Linked DNA regions of Homo sapiens. The protein of the gene in region 1 purifies or fractionates together with the protein of each later gene. This does not show direct contact. Each region holds a gene or a part of one and is shown on either strand. Other genes may lie near its edges.

Region 1 (3,500 bases):
GCACGCGTGCAGGAGTTGTGCGTGTAGGGGTCTGTGAGATGTGCAGGGAGTGTGTGAGGTGTGTGCAGACATGCAGTTGTGTGTGTGCAGGGAGTATGTGAGGTGTGTGTGCAGGTGTGCACTTGTGTGCAGGGGGTGGTGTGTGAGGTGTGCCTGCAGGGGGTGTGTCATGCCCGGGTGCGTGAGGCCGGCATGGGGTGTGGAGTGTGTGTTTCAGCTTTTGACCTTTTGGGGTCAGCTCTCTAGGGTGGTGGTCATCGCTTAAGGTGGACTTGAGATGTCCCTAGAGGCTCACTCACAGGATGCCATGCTGGCTCTTGGGATGGGCTGTGAGGACTGCAGGTGGGACCTCAGGCCTTTGGCTTCAGGCAGAGCCGGGTTTCCACCTGGGATCTGCTGTTCCCTTTGTTCCTGGCAGCCTCAGCCTTCTCTGGCACAGTGAGGCCGGTTGGTGATGGTTGCTGCCTGGAGAGTCAGTGTGAGAGGAGGCTGGTGGCTCCCAGCTGGGTGGCAGTGGTGTCTCTAAGCACAGGTGCTGGTCGCCTAATGGTGTTGCTTCCTGACCTGCTTGTGCTGTTCGGTTCCTGCAGGCCTCTCCTGGGTTGAGCAACGAGAAGGGCATGGACGCCGTGTCACCTTGGAAGTCCAGCGCAGTGCCCACTAAACACGCCAAGGTAAAGGGGCAACGGAGGACAAACTGATCTCGGGGCTTCCTGGGTATTCCCAGGGCCTGACCCTTGTGTCCTTCTCTCCCCTCCTGGAGGGGAGGGCTGGGGCCAGGTCAGGGCAGGGGTGGCGTGGGCCTGGGAATGGCCTTTTCCGTGTCCTCGCTGGGCAGGGCAGCTCCGTCTGGGCGCTGGCACAGCCTGCATGGTATCTGGTCGGAAATGCCTCCTTGGTGGCCGCCTTCTCACAGCCCAGGGCTCTCCGGGTGTGAAGCCGCAGTTCCCGTGGTGGCTGCCACAGCCTGCGGCCACTCCTTGAGCCTCACGCAGAGCATTCCCTGGTGTGTGAGTGTGTGGTGTGGTTCTTCCTGGAAATAAGACGTAGTCCTTGGTTACGTCCCTTGCTAAGCGAAGGCCGTATAGTAAGGCACCTGCTTCTCAACAGCTGGCTGAGACATTCTCAGGAGGAGCTTGAGACACTGCTGCTTTATGGCAGTTTCTGAAGGTTGTTTTTTATTCGGTAGAAACATGCCTTTTGTAGTAGTTGGGAAGTGAAAAACAAAATTAAAAAGCTTTGGTCTTTCTTACACATTGCCTGGAGGACAGAATTCAGAGTTCAGCGCAGTCCTGTGAGGCTGTGGCGTTCCCGTGGCCCGGGTCTCACTGTGGTTGCAGCCTGGCCCTCTGTGTCCACCGGGCCCCATCACCAGTGAAAACTTGCTTTATTTTATTTAAGTGTGCAGCCACAGCTTTGCCTTGATCTAAGGAATGTATCTGATCTTTATTGAGTGCTCTAGGTTAACGCTTTTTCCTTACATGAGTGGGAAGTCCCAGCCATCGCGTCCTGTTGCCAAAACCGTTGGGAGGAAGGTTTTCCTCTGCTAGCTCAGGTCTGAATGGTAAGGGCTGCAGGTGGATGACCGTAGACAGAGGGACAGCAGCAAAGACGGGCCTTACCGTTGTGAGCCCGTGGCAGCATTGGGAAGTGAGTAGCTTGCCAAATGCCCAGAGGTCGAGGTTTCTGTGCCAATGTAGCACAAAGGGGGCGAGGGCCAGGGCCTCCGTGGGAAGACGGGGACATTCTGTTGTCTCTTTATGCTGTGAGCATGGCCAGTCTGTGACCTTCCTGGAATTTGCAGGATGCTTTCACTTACACTTTCACATAGGGGTTTAATGGCAGCTGCACTTTCAGGTGGCTGTGCACTAGTCAGATAAGGAAAGTTCAGGTAAGATTTCTTTTCACCTTAAAATAATCTTTACGTCAGAAATATGATCTCTTCACATGAATTTGGAGTTTGAAGGGAAATCCTAGACACTGTGTTAGTTTACCCATAATTACTGCAGTGTGTATCTCTGACTGATAAGGACTTTTCTTTTTATCATGACTGCATGCTGTTGTTGCTGCCCCCAGTCAACGCAGACCTCGGCATCGTCTGCTGGGGCTGTAACCACGGGCCTTTCTACCACTGGTGCGTTTGGATCAGGACCCGCTGTCCTGGGGTGCTCCGCCTCTGGAGTTGCTCAGTGGGCAGACCACGTTGTCCATGAAGGCCACCCACAGAGGCCATGCTGGCTGTCACCGTGCTCAGGTGCTGATGGCCTGATGCCATCACCCGTGTCTCCCTCACTCGCATCCAGCTGAGGCTCCTGGCCCACTGCGTGTTCCATCCAGGGTGGAAAATGGTGAAATTGCAGTCCTGTCATTCTTCCTGTGATCTTTCTACAAACAAGGACTTTCCCGATCAGCAGTTTGGTTACCCTAAAATATACTTTGTACTTGAAAGTGAGGATGAATGTTAGAATCATTCCCTTTATCAATTTTCAAATAAATGAGCTGCGTCCTAGCAGCCTCCAGAGACAGTCCATGTTTGCGGCGTCTCATGATGGACACCGAGGCGTTATATTTGTATTTCTCATCCCATGGAGGCACCGCTCTTAGACGCTGGAACTGCCCTCTCTCAGGCCACCGCCATCCTTTTCAAGTTAACTCCTGTGCCTTTTTTAAATAACAAGTAGTTATTTTGAAATAATTTAGAACTTAGGGAAGAGTTACAGGAAGAGTGCAGAGTCCCCACATAGGGTTTTCCCAGACTTCCCGGTCACTAACCTTTGCCATGTTTGCCTCGCCACTCTCTGTTTGTGCATTTTTCTTGAACAATTTGAGAATAAATTATCAGGTAATGCCCTTTACTCCATGACACTTCGAGCTGGGTTATCTTGAAAATAAGGCCACTGTCCTCTGTGGTCAAAGGAGAGCCATGAAAATTAGGGAACTGACGCTCCTCTTCTGTCATCACAGGCCCCATTCACATTCACAAATGTCCCAGCACTTGATAGATGGCCCGTCCAGTGGCCCCCACCAGCCTGCTGCCCATGGAGTCCTTCTGGCGTGGCTGCAGCTGTTGTGAAGTGCACAGGCGGTTATCCTGCAGGGCGTGCCCAGTGGGGCTGGTCTGGTGTTCGTTTCAGTTAGACCCAGGTTATGCACTTGGGGCAGGACCTCCACAGACATTTGCCGTGTCCTCTACGAACATCATACTGTGAGGGACACCGTGTTGCTTTGTCCTGTTACTGGCGATGTTACTGTTTTCATTCAGTTAAGATGACATCTGCCATGCTTTTTTCCTGTAATATCAGGAAATGTCTAGTAATTAGAAAGTCATGAGTAAGTATCTTGTTGGGAGATACTGAGGCCGTTCAAATACCCTATTCTTCATCAGACTTTGACGCACTAGGTGTCAGTGTGCACTGATGACCTGGCCCGAGTTGGTTGGTAGTGGGATGCTTGCCTGCCATGGATTTTCCAATTCCATCATTCCTTCTCTGTTGATTACT
Region 2 (3,500 bases), on another chromosome or scaffold:
ACCCCTCATCTTAACACTTTCACTGTTGGCCAACAGTTGCATTTTTAGGGCTATGTTTAAGGTACGGGTCAGGAATAGATGTGGGTGCAATAAATAAACTCAGAGTAACTGGTAGACTTGATATGGAGTCATATGTGTATTAAGGAATGTTTTACTCTAAACTTTGGTAGTGTTACAGAGCAGGTTCTCTGAAGGCCTGAAATTGCTGAAAATTTATACCTACCTACAACAGTGTCATCTGTTTAATTGACACCCAGTGGTGTATGTGCATGGCCATATTTTGGATGTTAGGCATATGTTTTTACAATATTTAGCTCTTTCCATTACTGATTCCTCTAATAATGAAAGGTTTCAGTTTGTGAGAAATTATTCTTTTTTTTTTTTTTTTCCTTTATAAGAAATGATTCTTTCTTTGTTTTTTGTGGGTTTTTTTTTTTTTTTTTTTGAGATGACGTCTTAGTCTGTCACCCAAGCTGGAGTGCAGTGGCGCAAACTTGGTTCACTGCAGCTCCCGCCAGGATTCTCCTGCCTCAGCCTCCTGAGTAGCTGGGATTACAGGCGTGTGTTGTCATGCCTGGCTAATTTTTTTGTATTTTTAGTAGAGACGGGGTTTCACCATGTTGGCCGGGCTGGTCTTGAACTCCTGACCTCAAGTGATCCACCCACTTCGGCCTCCCAAAGTGCTGGGATTACAGGTATGAGCCACTGCACCCCGCCAAGAAATGATTCTTAAAGAAAACTTGAACAGCAACTTCCTGCTCTTTTCACTTAGTTGACAAATTCTGGATTTATTAAAGGTTACATAGTATAGTTGTCCCTTGGTATCCACGGGGGACGGTTCCTGGACCTCCCTTGGTTACCAAAATCTGGGATGCTCAAGTCCTGGATGTAAAATTGCATAGTGTTTGCATGTAACCTATACACATCTTCCTATGTACTGTAAGTCATTTCTAGGTTACTTATAGTACCTACACAGTGTAAATGCTGTGTAAACAGTTGTTATACTATATTGTTTAGGGAATGATGACAAGAATAAAAAGTCTGTACATTTTCAATACAGATACAATCTGTTTTCTACTGTTTTTTTCTACTATTTTCGGTCAGCAGTTGATTGAATCCACAGATGCAGACCCACAGATACGGAAGGCTGACTATATATTTGTTTTAAAAATCTTCATTTTTGGATTTTAATTATGGCAGACTTTGTTTAAAATAGGTTGTATTTTAGCATCTTGATCGTGCAACTTTTGTAACACTTAATATTTTTATCATAGAAAATATTAAATGACATGGATAATACTGTTTACTTAATGTCATTAACTTATCATCATCATTAGTTCCTTACGTGGTATACTATATTGTGTTTTCAGTACTTCAACTTAATATGGTGATGTTCTTTGTCTTATTAAAAATAGGACAAGGAAAGTGGAGAAGTGATAGTTCATTTCATTGGAATTTCATTGCTCTGAGGGAACTAAACTTGCATACATCTGTCATTTTCCAAGGAGTGACACTTAATGTTTATGGTTATTCTGGAACCCTAGATTGCCATAATGCTTTTGCCTTGCTTGTGAGGCCACCAACAGAGCAGGCAAATGTGCTACTCAGTTTCCAGATGACATCAGATGAACTTCCAAAAGAAAACTGGCTAAAGATGCTGTGTCGACATGTAGCTAACACCATTTGTAAAGCAGATGCTGTAAGTTCTTAAAACAGTATTATAATGAAAGTTTAAATTTCATGACAGTGCATTCAGACTAAACCTGTACATTTTTAATGACTTGTTTATTATGAATGGAGAGTTTTAGTTTTGTGTATATTAAAAAAACTGATGTAATAAGTTGTTTTAGAAAATATTTTATATAGTGTAGGTACACAAAATATTATTTGAGTTCTTGGCTTACATAAGGTAGGCCCTCATAGTCTTATAGCCCCTGTGGCTCTGATTCAGTGAAGATTTTGGGACTTCTTGTAATGTACCCTGTGATTTTTCATTGATACTCTTAGACATGGCTAAAAATTAGAGAGTATTTAGAGATGGGGTTTCACTGTGTTGCCCAGGCTGGTCTTGAACTCTTGAGCTCAGGCAGTCTGCCCACCTTGGCCTCCCAAAATGCTAGGATTACAGGCGTGAGCCACCGTGCCTGGCCAAAAAAAAAAAAAAATCTTATTGAAAGCAAGTTGAAAATGAAAGTTGCCAATCTATTTTTCTCATGTGAACCTCTTAAAAATGAAATGCTATCATAAATATATAATTATCATTATACTATACAGATTAAAGTGAAAATAGATGAGAGAATCAAAATAGGGAAGTTAAATGACTTGCCTGAAATCAGGTATCCCTGGATGAAATCCAGGTCCCTAAAAGATAATTTGATTTCTTCCTCTCTATATATGAGAGAGACACATGTGATAGACAGATATAGACCTCTTACTCTTTGCACAAATGACATAGATTGAAGAGAATATATGGATATAATAGATGACCCTTTTCGGTACAATGGTACTGTAACTGAGATTGCATTGGGTGTTTCTGTGGGAATGAAACATGTAATTACAGTTAAGTGTGAAACCTTGGAAGACATTTAGGTTTAATGTGGTTTATAAAGTAAGTATTCATTGATGAAAACCTCCTTCCAAAGTATTTAGAACAATAATCAGACTTTTTGTTTGTGTGTGTGTGTGTTTAGATTTCTATGGACCAATAATATGTTCTTATAAATAAAAAATTGTTGCACAAAAGATTCAGAGAGGGAAATACAATGCTAACAAATACAATAGAATGCTAGCTAGAAAAATGATGGAGACCACTTTTGTTATAAATCTTTCAAAACTGCTCATTGTAAGGTTTTTTTTTGTAGGTATCCATCCACTTTTTCTAGGTATCCATATATAAAATGGTTTTATCTGTAGAAGTTCCTTAATGCAGAAATTACTCCTGCTCTTATCAGAATGTCAGACTAGATAGTTTATAGAGTCCTTTCCAAACTTATAACCCTAATACTGAAATGAAACATTAACAGAAAATTTTTCTTATAATCTATTGAATTACTAGCCACATGATGGCTAATAGTACTAGAACTGAAATATAATAACATATGGAAGAAATTCATAAGTAAAATTAGCCACAAGATGGCAGCAAACGTTTAACTATGTTCTGACTTATCCTTACACTACAAAATTCTTTCAATCTATTGAAATTTTGTTCTTAAGAAATACGTTTGTAAATTCAGGTACTCGGTGACTTTGGTTGAGCCCTTTCCTGCGTTTAAAGTTCTACATATAGTAAATGTTTATAAAGCCCTGAGAATTTTTCCTGTGAAGATAATGTGTGTGTATATCTACACACACACACACACACACACACACACACGCACACACACACGTGAAAGATGTAAAAAGATATAAAAATCTCTGATTCTTTGAATTAGTAATTTTTGTTTTTGGTACCCTGTATATATATAATTTTTTGGTACCCTAAGTAACCTGAGCTTTCTTAA
Region 3 (3,500 bases), on another chromosome or scaffold:
TCAACCTTCCTGGGCTGAAGCAATCCTCCTGCCTCAGCCTCCCGAGTAGCTGGCACTACAGGCATGCACCACCACACCCAGCTAATTGTTTTTACACTTTTTGTAGAGATGGGGTTTCACTGTGTTGCCCAGGCTGGTCTTGAACTCTCGAGTTCAAGTGATCTGCCTGCCTCAGCCTCCCAGACTGCTGAGATTACAGGCAATAGCCATCACACCCAGCCCGTTGTCTTTAGTAGTTTTACTCTGGGCACTATTAGGTAGGACGCTTTGAGACATGCTAGGTGATAGATAATACCTCTGTGTGTGCATGCGCACAGACACACACACACACACACACACACACACACACACGGCACTTACCTGGTTTAACTTACATTTAAGGTGATCATGTCTTGTTTTCAAAAGTACTCTTCCCTATTGTTTAATCACAATATATGTGGAATTGTTTAAGTAAAGCAAATTTTAAGTAGTCAAGATAAACCAGAATATGAGGATTTGAATTAGGCTCTTTATTTCAAAAGCATATCCTTTGCTCAAATATTCTCCCCTTGATGCCTATTGGAATTTTTCTTGTAACTGTTTTAAGGCTTTTGAGACATTACTGTTTTCTTTCATAGAAGTGTTGAAATCCTTTCCTGTTAGTATGTCTGCTGCAAGTAGAATGGCATAACTTCAAAATATTATTTGTTCCAGAAACTAGCTTTGGTGGAAGATTCACTTCTAATAGTAATATTTCAACCTGTTAAGCAGGAAAAAAAAGTTCTCTTGGGTTTGTATGGTCCCTTTCTTCATTTTGCTATTGCAAACTTAGGAATTAATTAGCAGGCTTTTATGTTCTATACTGCTGCATCATGTTTCTTTCTGTTAATATGTTGTATTTTATTTCCAGAACACTGGAGTTCCTGATGAGACACTTGTCTCTTCTAGCTGACTATTGTTCCATCACAAATATGCATGCAAAAAATCTAGCAATTGTTTGGGCTCCAAACCTGTTAAGGTAATTTGCATTTCACTTATTAATTTTAGTAGAACTAATCCTAAATAAAAGGCTGATTCATCAGTGTTCTTTAAGGAAACTTTTAAAAGATTAAACAAATCTGTTCTTTTTATTTGCATCTCCCTAAAACAGGCAACTGGGCCTTAGCTAAGGGACAGTAAAAGTATGATTTCTTCCTCTGTTTGTCTGAGATTTACACGTTTAAAAAAAGAGGCCCTTGACGACTGCTATCTTTACAACTCTGTGATGAAAATGTTTACCTCACAGATCAAAACAGATAGAATCTGCCTGCTTCAGTGGAACAGCAGCTTTCATGGAAGTGAGGATTCAGTCTGTGGTTGTTGAGTTCATCCTGAATCACGTTGATGTGCTGTTCAGCGGCAGAATCAGCATGGCCATGCAAGAGGGGGCAGGTACGGCTCCGATGGCCCTTCCTACCAGGAGGGTGTGTCTCAGCTTCCAGAGGAGTAGCAAACCATGCATTTCTTATTGCAACAACAAAAACGTGTCACTGGTATAAGGCAGCTAATAATGTATGGCTGCTTACCAAAATGCACAATTTGACAGTTATTTTGTGTGTATATAGTGAATACTACATATGAGACCTATTGTGATCTAAGTTCATGACACATTAAAAAACTTGTCGTTCATTATTGATGTGTATTAAAGTATAAAGTGGAACAGAAGAAGAAAAATTGCTTCCAAAACTAAAAATATCTGAGTGATTGATCACCTTTCCTCATATCTTTTAAGAAAGGAAAACAGTTATTAAAGAGTTTTATATGTGTGTATGTGTGCCACTGGTGTATCCCCTTCAGTTTTTTATTTAATATAAAGCTTTTCTCATATCTTTTAAGAAAGGAAAACAGTTATTAAAGGGTTTTATATGTATGTATGTGTGCCACTGGTATGTCCCCTTCAGTTTTTCATTTAATATAAAGCACTATGGTTTTTGCTATTTAACATACTTGAAGAAAATTTGAAACAACAGATAGGTAGATAGATGGAGAGATAGATACTAACAAATTGAATACACTCACGTAGTTGACTCTCTTCATCAGCTTCCTTTTCTTTTTGAAGCTTCTCTATCAAGGCCCAAGTCCCTCCTGGTATCCTCTCCATCCACCAAACTGCTGACATTGGAAGAGGCCCAGGCACGAACACAAGCTCAGGTCAATTCTCCAATTGTGACGGAAAATAAATATATCGAAGTAGGAGAAGGACCTGCTGCACTTCAGGGGAAATTTCATACCATAATTGAGTTCCCACTTGAAAGGTAAAATTTGTTAAATCCTATTTTGGGATATGATTTTCATAGCTATGTCCTATTATTTTCTTTTAGTTTGCTTTTAATTTTGTATTTTAGTATTACTCTATTGAATTCTAGGCTAGTCCCAGAGAAACCTGTTTATTCGAATATGGATGATACTTACCGCTTCATGGGGAATGATGCAAATGATTCTTGCTTTACAATGTCATGTAATTTTATAAAAGAAGAACATCAGTGGTATAGGGAAAATTGTTTGGAAAAATAAGGATATACTGTCACTATATGGGTTGATTTTGCTCTCTGAACTATGTTGTTTATAAAGTTGTTTAGAAATAAGCTGTGTTGGAAGAGTTTGTTCAGAAAGTCAGGAATGGACAGTGACTTGTTTGACATTGGTTTCACATTAAGGTTAGAAGAGATTAATAGTGTGGTCTCCCAGCCAACAGCATCAGCATCACCTGGTGATAATTGCTAGAAGTGCACATTGTGCAGTCGTCCAGTCACACCCCAGACCCGCTGAATCAGAAACCCTGGGCGTGGGACCCAGCAACTGGTCATTCATCTAACTTTCCAGGTGATTCTGATGTCTGCTAGGACTTGAGAACCACTGCAGCAGTTCACTCTTTCAATGTCCCTTCCAGCTCTGAAATTCTATTACTCTAAAGAAATGATAATAACATGGTTTCTGTATCTTCTTTACTAGGTTATAGTAGGAAGACTAATGTATGTAAAAGTTATTTTTGATGTCTCTGCTACTCCTTTGGCTATTACACATGAATGTAAGGATTTTGATTCTCTGGATTGGGTAGTACTAATATAACTTTAGAATTTGTTCTTCCCGTATTTTAGTATACTCCTCTAACTTCCTTTCACTTCCTGTGACTAAAAACATTCTATCAGCAAAAAGTTGGAACATACTCTTACTTTGTCATCCTGAGTTTGTCTTTAGCATCTTGATTTTATATTCTAGTTCCATAATTTACTCAAAGATTTATTTATGGAGTAGTAGTTAAGAGAGTAGATACTGGGATGTAGATTGGCCTGGGTTCCAATTCTGACTCCATCATTTAATAGTTTTATAATGTTAAAGAAGTTATTTGAACTTCTTAGTGTCATAATTTCCTTGGCTGCAAAATGAGAATAATAGTACTTACCTCATGTGGTTGTATCTGATTTAAAGGAGATATTACATATAAGGCAGGTAGCACAGTGCCTGGCATTCAGTATATGTTT
Region 4 (3,500 bases), about 22 Mb from region 1:
CCGGGGGTGGAAGGAATGGAGACTTGGCTGGCCTGGGGGTTTGGGGAGGGAAGAGGGAGAAAACACCTTCCAGATTCTCATCAAATCCCTGTTTGTGGTTTGCAGCCTGCAGTCTTCTCCCTCCCTCTCCCTCCCTCTCTCTGTCTGTCTGGGTTTCCCCCTTTCTTTATCTCTTCCTGTCTCTCAGCCTCCCCATCTCTCTCCTTCTCCATCTCAGTCACTCTGTCTCCTTTCTTTTCTCTAAGTCTCTGTCTTCCATTTTTCTGCCTCCTCCTCTCTCTGCCAGCACCTCTGTCTGTCCGTCTCTCCCTGTCCCAGTCCATCTGTCCGTCTCTCTCCGTCTGTCTGTGTGTGGGTGTCTCTGTCCATCTGTTTCACCACCCATCTGTCTGGCTGTCTGTGTTAGTCCTTCCAAGGGTGCCCACTCGCTCCCCAAGGCACCCTCCCCCAGGTCAGCAAGGCCTCTCCTGGCTCAGGGGGTGGGGAGGGGGTGCAGAGCTGCAGCTTCTGGAAGCTTCAGTGGCAGCTGGGCTGAATTGGGAGTTCGGGGCCAGCCAGCTGCAGAAGCAGCCCCTCCCCTGGGCTCCCAGGCCAAGGACCCCAGAGCAGAAGAGGAGAGAAAACAGGGCCTCATTGCAGTTGGGTTTGTGTGTGTGGTGGAGGGGGCTGGAAGGGGGCTGGAGGGAGGCAGGGCCTCACTTTACTCTCACTTCACCATTGCCCCCGGAGCCAGGCCCTGCAGGAGAGGGATCCTTGATGCCCACCTTCCTCATCCCCTGGCCAATGGAAGAGATGCTGGGATCCAGGAGGGAGGGGCCAGGAGAGGCCAGGCCTTGGGCGAAGGAGGGGCTGGGAGCCAGGGCTTCCTGTCAGCTGGGCTGGAGGGGGGCTCCTTCCCTCCTCCTTTCCAGGCAGTCCCTGGGGACCCCTCCTGCTCTGGTCCCAGTTCCAGGCATGAGGGGTTGTTCTTGCCAACTGCACTGGGGCCATTCCCACCTCCATCTACCCATAGGGACGTGGGGGGATCACACCAGTGTCACCCCCACAACAGTGGAGGCTGGTTTTGGCCATGTAGTGACCCTGGCCCTGTCTAGGCACTGGCCATCCTGAATCTAGCACCTCACACACAAATATATACAGTGCATCCCAGTGCTCACCGCCTGCCCAAGCCCCCCAACACCAGCATCCACCGTCATGACATGAACGCAGAGACCAGCACCCTACCTTGCACTGGTGACAGCGCCCCCGTCACAAAGCCAGCAGCTTCAGACAGCATCCCTTAACATTCTCCCTGGCTACTCTGTCCCTGTCCCCCACTCCCTCTCCAATAGCTCACAGTCCAAATCCCACAATGGATGGGGAAACTGAGGCCCAAGAGGAAGGGATGGGAGGACACAGTCATCCCTCCTGAGACCCTGGGGTAGGATCATAAATGAGGAAAGAAGAAAGAGATGCTGCAGGGGCAGAATCAGGCTCCTTCCTGACCTACCATGGGTAAAGTCCATATTGGCTACACCCTCCACACAGCCCTACCACAGGGCCAGGGCCAGGGCCAGGGCCAGGGGCTGGCTCCCTCCCTCTCGAGCTCTCCTTGCCCCTGGTTGGGCCCCCTCCCTCTCCTCCCTTCTGAGCAGCCCTCCCTGCCCTCTCCCTCCCAGCTCTGGCTCTCTCATCCTCAGCTCTTGGAAGCCTGACTCACTGTTTCCCCTCCTCTCTCGCCTCCCTCCCTCTCTCTCCCGGCAGCAGCGGCGCCTCCCCCTCCCCTGGGGGGGCTCTGGCCACAAGGGTGCCTGCCTGCTTCTCTCCCCAGGCTCCGGCCCCCTCCACTCCCAGGAGGCCCCCTGCAGCTGTTCCAATTCTCTAACTACAGTGAGGTGGAGTGCAAACAGCCCAGGTCCCAGCCTGGTCTTGCCAAAGGTATCTGTGACCCTGAGCAAGTGGCTCCTCTCCCTAGACTTGGCTTTCTCTCGTCAAACAAGTGGGGGGCGTCCAACTGGATGATGCTCCTGGCACCTCTGGGACCCTAATGTTTCCCGCTTTTATAACCTGGGTGTCTTTTGGCACAGAGCACCTGACAACCTGTAGGGTGCAGTACCTGCCACAGGCCACGCCCCCCCGGGTCCCAAGAAAAGCTCAGCTCTGTTCCAGGCATTTGGGGAGGGCAGAAGGGAGATGCTACCCTGGGACCTGAAACATTTGTTGAAAACCCTGGAATCTGTCTCCCCATTCTCCCTCCTCCTGTGAGAGTCTCTCTCTCTCTCCCACCTGTCCTCCTCCCTCTTCCCAAACATCTGCTTGTCTCTCCTCCAAAAACAACCCCAGAATCTGATCTTGGGTGAGAGGACCTCAGGGCTGCCTCCTCTCTGGCTCCAGGGAGGGGAGTGGTATATTCCTAGGCCTTCTTGGTCCCCGGCCCCCACCTCCAGGGGCTGTAATTCCAGATTTTCTTGCCTGTTTTCTCTTTCACTCTCATCACTGGCTTTGGTCTCCATCTTTCTCTCTCTTCACCATGCATGTGGTTGTGGGTCGCTCCCCCGCCCCCCTCCCTGGGGGGGGCCCATCTGCAGGCATTAGCAACAATGTTACCCTTGCTTCCTCCCATAGTCCCCAGCTCCACTCCATCCTGGCTTCCGCCTCCCCACTCTGTCCCAAGAGACCCAGGGGACCCAGAGACAGAGCTGGGCTCCATCCCATAATAGTGAGTCTGCTTGACCTCACCAAGCCAGACCAGAAGGGCCTGGGCATCTGGTACACAGGCATGGCACCCCCTGGTCTTGGGTGGCTGGCATGAGACACAGAGCTCTGTGTTCTACAAACCAAAAAAAAAAAACAAAAAAAATTGAAATTGACCTGGGGGTGGGACAGAAGAGGGGAAGGGGGAAATGAGGGAGATCAGGTTTGCCTGGAGGAAGCCCCTGTCCAATGGGGAACAGAAGCATAGAGGTGGGAGTGGTTCAAAGTCAGTGCTCCAGGCTGATTGGAGAACAACAATGTCCCTCTGGGGCTCTGCCAGTCCAGAACAGCTCCCCCTACCCAAATGTCTTCTGCCAGGGGCAGTCTGCCCCTCAAGCCTCCAGCACAACCACAGCAATCAGGTGGAGACCCCATCTTTTAACCTTTTGAATCCAAGTCCAACTTCCCTACTGTACACCTCCACTTAGCTCAGCAGGGGGTTCCAGAAGCCTCCCAGCCCAGATCTAAGCCCATGCAGTGGGGGTAACAAAGTCCCCCAGCTCCCAAACCCCTTCCCCAAAGGCCCCATCAAGGGCTGGGGAGCAATGCAAAATAACCCCAGAACCCTCACGCATTGAAACTGAGAAGCTATGCTGTCCCACAGCGCCTGAGGGTGGTAGGGGCTCCCTGCCCCCACGACCCTGTTCCAGACCCCCCAGCCCAGCAACAATAATAAACAGCAAGCTCTTTTTCTTTATGACACCAAATTTCTCCAAGCCCAACAGCTCCTTCCATCACTACCTCAGCCATAGATCACATTAAAAACT
Region 5 (3,500 bases), on another chromosome or scaffold:
GAGACCATCCCGGCTAAAACGGTGAAACCCCGTCTCTACTAAAAATACAAAAAATTAGCCGGGCGTAGTGGCGGGCGCCTGTAGTCCCAGCTACTTGGGAGGCTGAGGCAGGAGAATGGCGTGAACCCGGGAGGCGGAGCTTGCAGTGAGCCGAGGTCCCGCCACTGCACTCCAGCCTGGGCGACAGAGCGAGACTCTGTCTCAAAAAAAAAAAAAAAAAAAAAAACTGAAGTTGCCACAGGACTTTAATTTATTTAGACGATAAATCTCTGCCAATACATCATCCAGTACCAACTTTGGCACTACTTAGGAAAGCGTTTCTGAGAGCCCTGTGTGTATGTGGTTTATTTTTGTTTTGTTTGATTGTTTGATTTTGTTTGTTTTGAGACAGAGTCTTTCTCCATTGCCCAGGCTGGAGTGCAGTGGCACGATCTCGGCTCACTGCAACATCTGCCTCCTGGGTTCAAGCAATTCTCCTGCCTCAGCCTCCCAAGCAGCTGGGATTACAGGCATGCGCCACCACACCCAGCTTTTTTAAAATTTTTTTATTTATTTTTTATTTTTAGTAGAGATAGGGTTTCGCCATGTTGGCCAGGCTGGTCTCGAACTCCTGACCTCAGGTCATCCACCCGCTTCGGCCTCCCAAAGTGTAGTTTTTCTCCCTTGAAGCGGTTATGTAATTTCAGTGCAATATTAAATATGACCAGGGAAGCATATTGTTTAACAGCAACTCGATGAGAGGCGGCATTGAGGCAAAGCAGCTGTCCCCAGGTTTGTGAACATCCTCGTAGGGGATGGAGAAGGCTGCCCGTTGGAAGCAGCCAGGCCTCACGGTTCCCGCTTGTCCACCTCATCCCGTCTGGCACAGCACAGTGAGTGCACAGACCGGGACAGTGGCCACAAGTCCGGGCCCAAGCTTGCCCCTGGCCCTTCAGTGGTTCCGATTCCCTTTATGCAGAACTGCCCAGCCCAGGTCTGTCCTGAGTGCGAGGCAGATGCTCACCCACGATCCAGCTTCCCACAGATGCATGAGAAATCAGTGTGAAGATGGCCTAGTGTCTTAGATTCTTAATTCCGTAATTGTAACGTATCCTGTTCAAAGCCGTGTCATTCTCTGAAGCTGTTGCCAGGAAGTACTGAGATGTTTGTTTACCGATTGCAAATGTGGATCCTTTCTTTTATTTTTCTAATCCACTGCTCTTGTCTAAGTGCCAGGTGACAGAGTCCATTGTGTGTAACTGCTGCCAGCTTTGTCTGGCTTCTCTTTCCTTAACTATGCAGAATCCGGTTGCCTTGAGTTCGGAGAAAATAAAGAATCGGCCAGGGCAGTGGCTCACACCTATAATCCCAGCACTTTGGAAGGCCAAGGCAGAAGGACCACTTGAGCCCAGGAATTTAAGACCCGCCTGGGCAACATAGAGTGTGGGTCTACAAAAAAAATTAAGAAATCAGCCAGGCATAGTTCTAGCTTCTCAGGAGACTGAGGCAGAAGGATCGCCTGAGCCCAGGAGTTCAAGGCTGCAGTGGGCTATGATGGTGCCACTGCACTCCAGCCTGGTCAACAGTGAGACCCTGTCTCAGAAAAATGATAATAAAGAAATGATACCAATAACAAAGAGTTTAGAATGGTTGATTTCTCTACCCATGGCCATTCTGCCTCACCCCTAGTGGGGCACCCCCCGAACGCGCCATGGTTACGGCGATGAGACGTGCTGTTTGCTCCCCGCGCAGGCCAGATCGATAAGGAGGCCGTGCAGAAGTACGCCTACCTCAACGTGGTGGGCATGGTGGGCTCCATCGACAATGATTTCTGCGGCACCGACATGACCATCGGCACGGACTCCGCCCTGCACAGGATCATCGAGGTCGTCGACGCCATCATGACCACGGCCCAGAGGTAAAGCGCTCAGAGGAACCGGCGGGAGGCCAGTGGGGCCCGACGTGTGCCCAGCTCAGACGTTACCACGGGCTCTAGAACATTCTGCAGATTGGGTGTCCTGGTGCTGGTCTCGTAACTTGACTTTTAGGAGCTATTGCCAGAACATTGTTCTCTGGTCTACTTTTCATTTTTAATTTTAAAACATTCCTTGTTTTTAACCTGATGATAGAAAACAGTTTATTAGAATTTGGAAGGAAGAAACAAAGTAATTATCCTCTAAATGTCCTACCCAAACATCTCCAGAAGGAGTGGCAAGCAGGAAACTGTTGTGTGGATTTTCCACACTACTCATTAGAAACGCAGCCAGCGATGTCCTGCCCTGTGTAACCTACGGATTCACGAAGTGTCGTGGGGGCCACAGCGTTTGATCCGAGGTGCTCTAGGCTCAGCAGGTTATCACTAAAGACTGTGGGGCGCACCGTACAATTTCTGAAGCAATTTGCATGAAAACCATGTGGAATGGTAAATAGAATAAGTGTCTCCCCTTTAAGGACGAGGTGCTCGAGACTGGGAGAGTGCCCGAATCCAGTCCCCAGCATGGCGCCTCCCAGTCCTCTGTGTGCGTGTCCTGTTCCCAGTGACGCCTCACTGGACATTCTCAGTGCGTGGGCGTGAACCCCACAGTTGGTGGAAAATCACCGAGTTGGAAGGCTGCTCGGAGCAGTTGGATTTTTCCATTCCCTGGGAAGACCCACAGTCTCTGGGCATTAAGCACTTAGTGAGTCTGGCACTCACTTGTTTCCGTGGGAGAGATCCAGCCGTGGCTGTCGACAGCAGCTGCCGACTGTGCCCAATAGAGAAGGTATCTGGGAAAGAGCCCAGCACGGGGCCGGGGAGTGTGAGTGTGTCCTGGCACAGGCAGGCAGAAGGTGTCCAACGTGCAACTGGAGAGCGCAGAGGTGGCTCAAGTCCCCTTCCTCGCAGGAGTCTGGAAGGCTACTGCATAGCGTTTGCCTTAGTAGAAAATGGACCATTTTTGAAGCCTAGGTCCCTGCAGGCCTCCTGGCTAACTCGGCTGTCAAAGCCCCTTTTCTCTGCTTTCTGAGCTGTTTCCAGGACTGAGTGGGTGCTCCCTCTGTTTCTCTGCTTTCTGAGCTGTGTCCGGGGCTCCCTCTGTTTCTCTTCCAGCCACCAGAGGACCTTCGTTCTGGAGGTGATGGGACGACACTGTGGGTACGTACCTGCGGTGGGTCCGGTGGACGCGGTTCAGGTGGGGGACCCTCAGCATCATCTCCCTGAGGCTGCACCCCACATCCTGAATGCTCCCGTGGAAAGTCCTGAAGGGGCCGGCATCCCGCTTCATACCTGGCGTTAGGTCTGCACGTCTGTCGCTGAGCGGGGTGCCTGGGCTGCCCTCGTGGGAAGGATCCTTCTGGGGTGTTGATGCTGTTGCCTTGTCCACATAGGTACCTGGCCCTGGTGAGTGCCTTGGCCTGCGGTGCGGACTGGGTGTTCCTTCCAGAATCTCCACCAGAGGAAGGCTGGGAGGAGCAGATGTGTGTCAAACTCTCGGAGGTAATGCGGGTCCCGTGGCCGTTGATAGCGGGCGATGCTGGCTGCA
Region 6 (3,500 bases), on another chromosome or scaffold:
AAGTACCTGGGATTGCAAGTGCATACCACCATGCCCAGCTGATTTTAGTATTTTTAGTAGAGATGGGGTTTCACCATGTTGGCCAGACTGGTCTCAAACTCCTGACCTCAAGTGAATCGCCTGCCTTGGCCTCCCAAAGTGCTGGGATTACAGGTGTGAGCCACCACACCCAGCCTATATATATTTTATTCATCCATTCATCAGTTGATGTACATTTGGGTTGTTTCTACTTTTTAGGTACTTTTGTTTTCTAAGAGGAAGGTTATATGTGGATAATGCGGCTATGAACACTTGCATACAAGTTTCTGTGTGGACATATATTTTCAGTTCTGTTGAGTATGTACCTAGGGGTAGAATTCCTGGGTCATATGGTAACTCTATGTATTAAACTTTTTGAGAAACTGCAAAATTGTTTTCCAAAACAACCATATAATTTTATTTCTGCCAGCAATATATGAGGGTTCCAGTTTATCTGCATCCATGCTAACACTCGTTACTGTTCATTGTTTTGAACATAGTCATCCTAGTAGGTATGAAGTGGTTGTGATTTGCATCTCCCTAATGACCAATGATGTTGAACATGTTTTTCTTTTTCTTTTTTTTTGAGACAGAGTCTTGCCCTGTCGCCCAAGCTGGAGTGCAGTGGCACAATCTTGGCTCACAGCAACCTCCGCCTCCTGGGTTCAAGTGATTCTCCAGCCTCAGCCTCCCGAGTAGCTGGGATTACAGGCGTGTGCCACCACGCCCAGGTAATTTTTGCAGTTTTTCTAGCAGAGATGGGGTTTTACCATGTTGGTCAGGCTGGTCACGAACTTCTGACCTCAAGTGATCAGCCTGCCTCGACCTCCCAAAGTGCTGGGATTACAGGTGTGAGCCACCGTGCCCAGCCTTGAGCATCTTTTTATATACTTTGGCCAGTATTTCTCCTTTGGAGAAATAATCTATTTGAATTCTTTATTCTAGATACCAGTTACTTATTAGATACAGCATTTGAAAATATTGTCTCCCGTCCAGGAATGGTGGCTCACGCCTGTAATCCCAGCACTTTGGGAGGCCGAGGCAGGAGGATCCCTTGAGGTCAGGAGTTCAAGACCAGCCTGGCCAACATGGTGAAACCCTGTTTCTACTAAAAATACAAAAATTAGCTGGGCATGGTGGCACGAGCCTGTAATTCCAGCTACTCAGGACGCTGAGGCAGGAGAATCGCTTGAACCTGGGAGGCAGAGGTTGTAGTGAGCTGAGATTGACCCAGTGCACTCCAGCCTGGGTGACAGAGCAAGACTCCATCTCAAAAAAACAAAAAAGGAAAATAAAATATTGTCTCCCATCCTCCCCTCCCCTCCCCTCTTCCCCTTCTGCAAGGCCTTGCTCTGTTGCTAAGGCTGGAGTGCAGTGATGTGATCTCAGCTCACTGCAGCCTCCACCTCCTAGGCTCAAGTGATCCTCCAATCTTACCCTCTCGAGTAGCTGGGACTACAGGCATACGCCAGCACGCCTGGCTAATTTTTTCTATTTTTTGTAGGGACAGGGTGTCCCTATGTTGTCTAGGCTGGTCTCAAACTCCTGGCTGGGCTCAAATCATCCTCCCACCTTGGCCTCCAAAGTGCTGTGATTACGGGTGTGAGCCACCTGTGCCTGGCTGAGCATCTAATTAATATGCATCAGACATAGTCCTAAGTACTTTTAGTGTATTCTTTCAGCTAATCCTGAAATAGTAATACAATATGGCTGTGGGTATTAGATCCATTTTTAAATGATGAAACTGGGCTCAGGGAAATTAAGTTTCTCACATAAGACTGCATCTAATGCCAAGCTCAATGGTCTTTTTATTGTGCTTTTTAGGGTACATCCAAATAACTGATGTTTACTTGGGAAATAAATTTGTATTAAATTGGAATTCATTTAAAACATTGGTTCATTTTCAGAATGGAAAACCTATGAAAAGTTATGAGGAGATTTTTAAAAATAATTGAATCAAACATCAGTAGTTTCAGATTAACCACAATTTAAGTGATTGAATTAAAACAATTATTTTTATTTGGAGGAAGAGAAAAAAATCAGAACATTTGGATAACTGATGTCGGCATTTTGTCTTTGCCTGTCAACACTGCAAATAAACATTCATTTTGAGAAAGACAACTTCTCATTTTCTTTTTAATTTATTAAAAAATTTTGGCCAGGCACAGTGGCTCACACCTGTAATTCCAGCACTTTGGGAGGCCGAGGCGGGCGGATCATGAGGTCAGGAGATCGAGACCATCCTGGCTAACACAGTGAAACGCCGTCTCTACTAAAAATACAAAAAAAAAAAAAATTAGCTGGGCGTGGTGGCGGCCACCTGTAGTCCCAGCTACTCGGGAGGCTGAGGCAGGAGAATGGCGTGAACCCAGGAGGAGGAGCTTGCAGTGAGCCGAGATCGCGCCATTGCACTCCAGCCTGGGCGACAGAGCGAGACTCTGTCTCAAAAAAAATTAAATAAAATAATAATTTTTTTTTTTGAGACACTCTTGCTGTGTCACCCAGGCTAGAGGACAGTGGCATGATCACAGCTCATGGTAGCCTTGACCTCCTGGACTCATACAATCCTCTTACCTCAGCCTCCTGGGTAGCTGTGACTACCTGGCATATCACTACATCTGACTTTTTTTTTTTTTTTAAATGGAGATGGAGGTCTCACTCTGTTGCTCAGACTGGTCTTGAACTCGTGGCCTCCAGTGGTCTTCCTGACTTGGCTTCCCAGAGTGTTGGGATTACAGGTGTGGGCTACCACACTCAGCTTCTTCTCATTTTCATTTACAATTTTAAAAGTAGGCATGGAGCGTTTGGCCATTTGGATGTTCAAAAGACTTCATTATTTTGTGTTTTTGTGTGTGTTTGCTTCATTTTATAATCATTATTTTTTAACTGTTGCATTATGATTTAATTTCATTGCACAAAAATTTGAAATTGCAACTGCTTTTCTTTTCTTTTCTTTTTTTTTTTTTTTGAGATGGAGTCTCACTCTGTTGCCCAGGCTGGAGTGCAGTGGTGCGATCTCAGCTTACTGCAGCCTCCCCCTCCCGGGTTCAAGCAATTCTTCTACCTCAGCCTTCTGAGTAGCTGGGATTACAGGTGCGTGCCACCATGCCCAGCTAATTTTTGTATTTTTGTAGAGACGGGGGTTTCACGATGTTGGCCAGGCTGGTCTCGAACTCCTGACCTTGTGATCTGCCTGCCTCAGCCTCCCAAAGTGCTGGGATTACAGGCACAAGCCACCATGCCTGGCCCGCTTCTTTTGTTTTCTAAGAGGAAGGTTATGTATACCTCTATATTCAATTCTGCATTGTTATATTTGAACCATATTGTGAACTTTACATTGTGATGGGTCATTTTAGAACTTCCATGTAACACTAAATTGCAATATGGAAACCAGTTTTTAAAACTGAGGAAAGTTTTCATGCTAAAAAACAAAAGCCACTTTTTATGGACAACTTACTTTGGATTACAATGTACCAGGTTGC
Region 7 (2,718 bases), on another chromosome or scaffold:
CTGGATGCTGAAAAGCAGGTGACAGCCAGGGGCCAGCTTGGGGGCAGTGGTCCTGGGAGCCTCGGCCTCGTTTGTAGAGGACCAGGGCAGGAGTGCTGGGCCCCAGCCCAGGAAGCCTGCAGTCAAGAGTGTGTGAGGCTGTGAGGGCAGGCTGGGGTGACAATGGGGCTGAATCCCAAGAGGCCCCAGACCTTGGACCCCGCTCAGCTCCCCTACACTGGCAGCCAGTCTATACTCCACAGGCAAGGGAGAGGGGAGGAGAGACGAGGCTGAGGGAGGGAAACCACAGGAAACATTCTAGAACACTCCCCAGCTGAAGGGCATGCAGTCAGGCCCAAGGGGGCTGAGGGTGAAGCCCTCCAGGTCCCAGGGAAACGGACCCTGAAAGGGGCTGCAGGCAGAACGGCCCTGGGGTCTCAGCAACCACAGGCAGCAGGAAACCTAAGGCCACTTGCAGTTCTGAAGAAAGTGACTTTGGCCCAAGAATTCTACCAGCCAGCCAGATAGGCCGGAGGAGAAAGGCAGCTCCAGACGTGAAAGGCATCTCCCAAGTCACCCTGGGACCTTTCTGTCAAGAAGCTATTAGGAAAAAGAAATAAAAAACATACAAAAAAAGCAAGAGCTACCAGAGGATGTGTGTCACCAAGACAAACAGAGTAACTAAGAAAGGCAGCAACATAGGATTCCAAAGCTGGGGGACCCACTCCGGGGAGACCCGGGTGCCCGGGCCAAGGGAGGAGAGATCACGCTCGGCTCAGAGACCACGGGCTCCAGGAGAACAGAATAGCAGACGTGGCAGAGCTGGGGGCTGAATGAGGGATACACAAGTAGAAAGCCAAGCACATTTTACAAACTACAACCTAGGAAAAGGCAAAGCGAATACAGGAGCACGGAGGGCCTCGTGTCGACAGAGCTCCACACGGGAGCACGGCGGGCCTGGTGTCCACGCAGAGCTGAGCACGGTGGGCCTGGTGTCCACACAAAGGGAGAAATGGCAGCCGGGGAGGGCCCAGCCTGGCTCCTCACAGTGCCCTGTGGACTGCCACCCAGTAGGTGTGCAACTTTCATTCAGAAAAGAGAAGCTGGGCACGGTGGCTCAAGCCTGTAATCCCAGTGCCTTGGGAAGCCGAGGTGGGAAGATCGCTTGAGCCTAGTAGTTCAAGACCAGCCTAGGCAACAAGGTGAGACCGTCTCTACAAAACATAAAAAATTTGCCAGGTGTGCTGACCATGCCTGTAGTCCCAGCTACTCAGGAGGCTGAGGCAGGAGGATTGCTTCAGCCCAGGAAGTTATGGCTGCAGTGAGCTGAGATCAGAGATCGCACCACTGCACTCCAGCCTGGGCAACAGAGCAAGACCCTGTCTCAATAAATAAATAAATATATTTTTTAAAAAGAAAGAAAAAGAGGATCTAGGGCAGAAAGCTGCCATCACTGAGCAGCAGGGTCAGGTCGTCAGTGGGCGTGTTAGGGTCTCGTAGGGAAAGGTAGGAGTCACTCACCTGTGCCAGCTGAGCAGGGTTGTAGAAGGGCATGGCCCCGCTGGGAGGGCCCCCTGCAGCAGGGAGGTCGCCAGGAGCCTGAGAAGCACAGAGAAGTCACCTCAGCAGGGCTGCGCTGCACAGCAGCTGTCACTTCAAGTGCAGATACAGACACCGCTTCTGGGTGGGATTTACAGTACTTTTACATAAGCTACAGAAGCAGATCCAAGACACTTCTTGCAACACTGGATTTAGTTATTTAATGGTTCAGAGAAAAATGGTGAAAATCAAAGCAACGTGCAGAGCCAATGTTTTAAGCACCGGAACATGCAATGGGAAGGTGCACACAGCACTGAGGTGGCACCGAGCGTGCGAGGTGGTGAGGAGGTGCCCACGGCTGCAGCTCTAAGGCTCCAGCCATGACACGAGGCCCAGGGCTCTCATTTGCAGGCGGAAGGGTCGCTGCAAGCCTTTCTGCTGAGCCACGGCTGCAGCTGGTGCCTGGACAGGCAGAAGATGAAGCGTTCGTTCACCTCCCTCCCACATTGGCCGCAGGTCACTGCTGCACCCGCCCCGGCCTCAAACCAACGTTCTCATGCTTGATCAGAAAGGAGCAATCTTCCTTCCAAAGGAGAGCATCCTGACCGGGGAAACACTCACTCGGCGAGGCCACGACCCAGGCCCGTCATTGGAAAAACCAATTTGGAAAGAGCAAAATGACAGAACCCACTCATTGACTAGGACACCTCAGGGTCGATCCAGTTGCCCCATGTATGTGGAGACTGAACAGCAAAACCCCCTTTAAGGCCATTTAAAGGAACACTGCTGTAATCTCAGCACTTTGGGAGGCTGAGGCGGGCGGATCACCTGAGGTTGGGACCAGCCTGACCAACATGGAGAAACCCCGTCTCTACTAAAAATACAAAATTAGCTGGGCGTGGTGGCTCATGCCTGTAATCCCAGCTACTCAGGAAGGCCGAGACAGGAGGATGGCTTGAACCCAGGAGGTGGAGGTGGCGGTGAGCTGAGATCACACCATTGCATTCCAGCCTGGGCAACAAGAGCGAAACTCCGTCTCAAAAAAAAAAAAAAAAAAAAAAGGAACCCTGTACCCTTGGTCACGTGACGCTGAGGGAGACAACGGGCGAGGTTAGTGGCAAAGCGCACGTGGCGAACCGGCACCGCGTGCTCAGGAACACAGGCGGCACACGCCAGCTCTCATGTTAGTGAGGACCACCA

What was found.
Region 2: the proteins of NPHP4 (region 1) and ECT2 purify together in Homo sapiens (affinity purification with mass spectrometry, with the first as the bait; one large-scale study listed by BioGRID). This does not show direct contact.
Region 3: the proteins of NPHP4 (region 1) and ARHGAP32 purify together in Homo sapiens (co-immunoprecipitation; one large-scale study listed by IntAct). This does not show direct contact.
Region 4: the proteins of NPHP4 (region 1) and AHDC1 purify together in Homo sapiens (co-immunoprecipitation; one large-scale study listed by IntAct). This does not show direct contact.
Region 5: the proteins of NPHP4 (region 1) and PFKP purify together in Homo sapiens (co-immunoprecipitation; one large-scale study listed by IntAct). This does not show direct contact.
Region 6: the proteins of NPHP4 (region 1) and NEK4 purify together in Homo sapiens (affinity purification with mass spectrometry, with the first as the bait; one large-scale study listed by BioGRID). This does not show direct contact.
Region 7: the proteins of NPHP4 (region 1) and SEC16A purify together in Homo sapiens (co-immunoprecipitation; one large-scale study listed by IntAct). This does not show direct contact.

Annotation. Positions count from the first base shown.
Region 1 is NC_000001.11:5,870,426-5,873,925, reverse strand, and holds part of NPHP4 (nephrocystin-4), read left to right. Parts: intron 1-590; coding exon 591-674; intron 675-3,500. UniProt on the Homo sapiens protein: Involved in the organization of apical junctions; the function is proposed to implicate a NPHP1-4-8 module. Does not seem to be strictly required for ciliogenesis. Required for building functional cilia.
Region 2 is NC_000003.12:172,806,226-172,809,725, forward strand, and holds part of ECT2 (protein ECT2), read left to right. Parts: intron 1-1,544; coding exon 1,545-1,699; intron 1,700-3,500. UniProt on the Homo sapiens protein: Guanine nucleotide exchange factor (GEF) that catalyzes the exchange of GDP for GTP. Promotes guanine nucleotide exchange on the Rho family members of small GTPases, like RHOA, RHOC, RAC1 and CDC42.
Region 3 is NC_000011.10:128,979,326-128,982,825, reverse strand, and holds part of ARHGAP32 (rho GTPase-activating protein 32), read left to right. Parts: intron 1-889; coding exon 890-997; intron 998-1,264; coding exon 1,265-1,410; intron 1,411-2,077; coding exon 2,078-2,273; intron 2,274-2,970; coding exon of another isoform or gene 2,971-2,977; exon of another isoform or gene 2,978-3,500. UniProt on the Homo sapiens protein: GTPase-activating protein (GAP) promoting GTP hydrolysis on RHOA, CDC42 and RAC1 small GTPases. May be involved in the differentiation of neuronal cells during the formation of neurite extensions.
Region 4 is NC_000001.11:27,597,645-27,601,144, forward strand, and holds part of AHDC1 (transcription factor Gibbin), read right to left. Parts: intron 1-3,500. UniProt on the Homo sapiens protein: Transcription factor required for the proper patterning of the epidermis, which plays a key role in early epithelial morphogenesis. Directly binds promoter and enhancer regions and acts by maintaining local enhancer-promoter chromatin architecture.
Region 5 is NC_000010.11:3,102,048-3,105,547, forward strand, and holds part of PFKP (ATP-dependent 6-phosphofructokinase, platelet type), read left to right. Parts: intron 1-1,731; coding exon 1,732-1,897; intron 1,898-2,561; exon of another isoform or gene 2,562-3,067; coding exon 3,068-3,112; intron 3,113-3,345; coding exon 3,346-3,454; intron 3,455-3,500. UniProt on the Homo sapiens protein: Catalyzes the phosphorylation of D-fructose 6-phosphate to fructose 1,6-bisphosphate by ATP, the first committing step of glycolysis.
Region 6 is NC_000003.12:52,746,941-52,750,440, reverse strand, and holds part of NEK4 (serine/threonine-protein kinase Nek4), read left to right. Parts: intron 1-611; coding exon 612-749; intron 750-3,500. UniProt on the Homo sapiens protein: Protein kinase that seems to act exclusively upon threonine residues. Required for normal entry into proliferative arrest after a limited number of cell divisions, also called replicative senescence.
Region 7 is NC_000009.12:136,442,323-136,445,040, forward strand, and holds part of SEC16A (protein transport protein Sec16A), read right to left. Parts: intron 1,579-2,718; coding exon 1,501-1,578; intron 1-1,500. UniProt on the Homo sapiens protein: Acts as a molecular scaffold that plays a key role in the organization of the endoplasmic reticulum exit sites (ERES), also known as transitional endoplasmic reticulum (tER).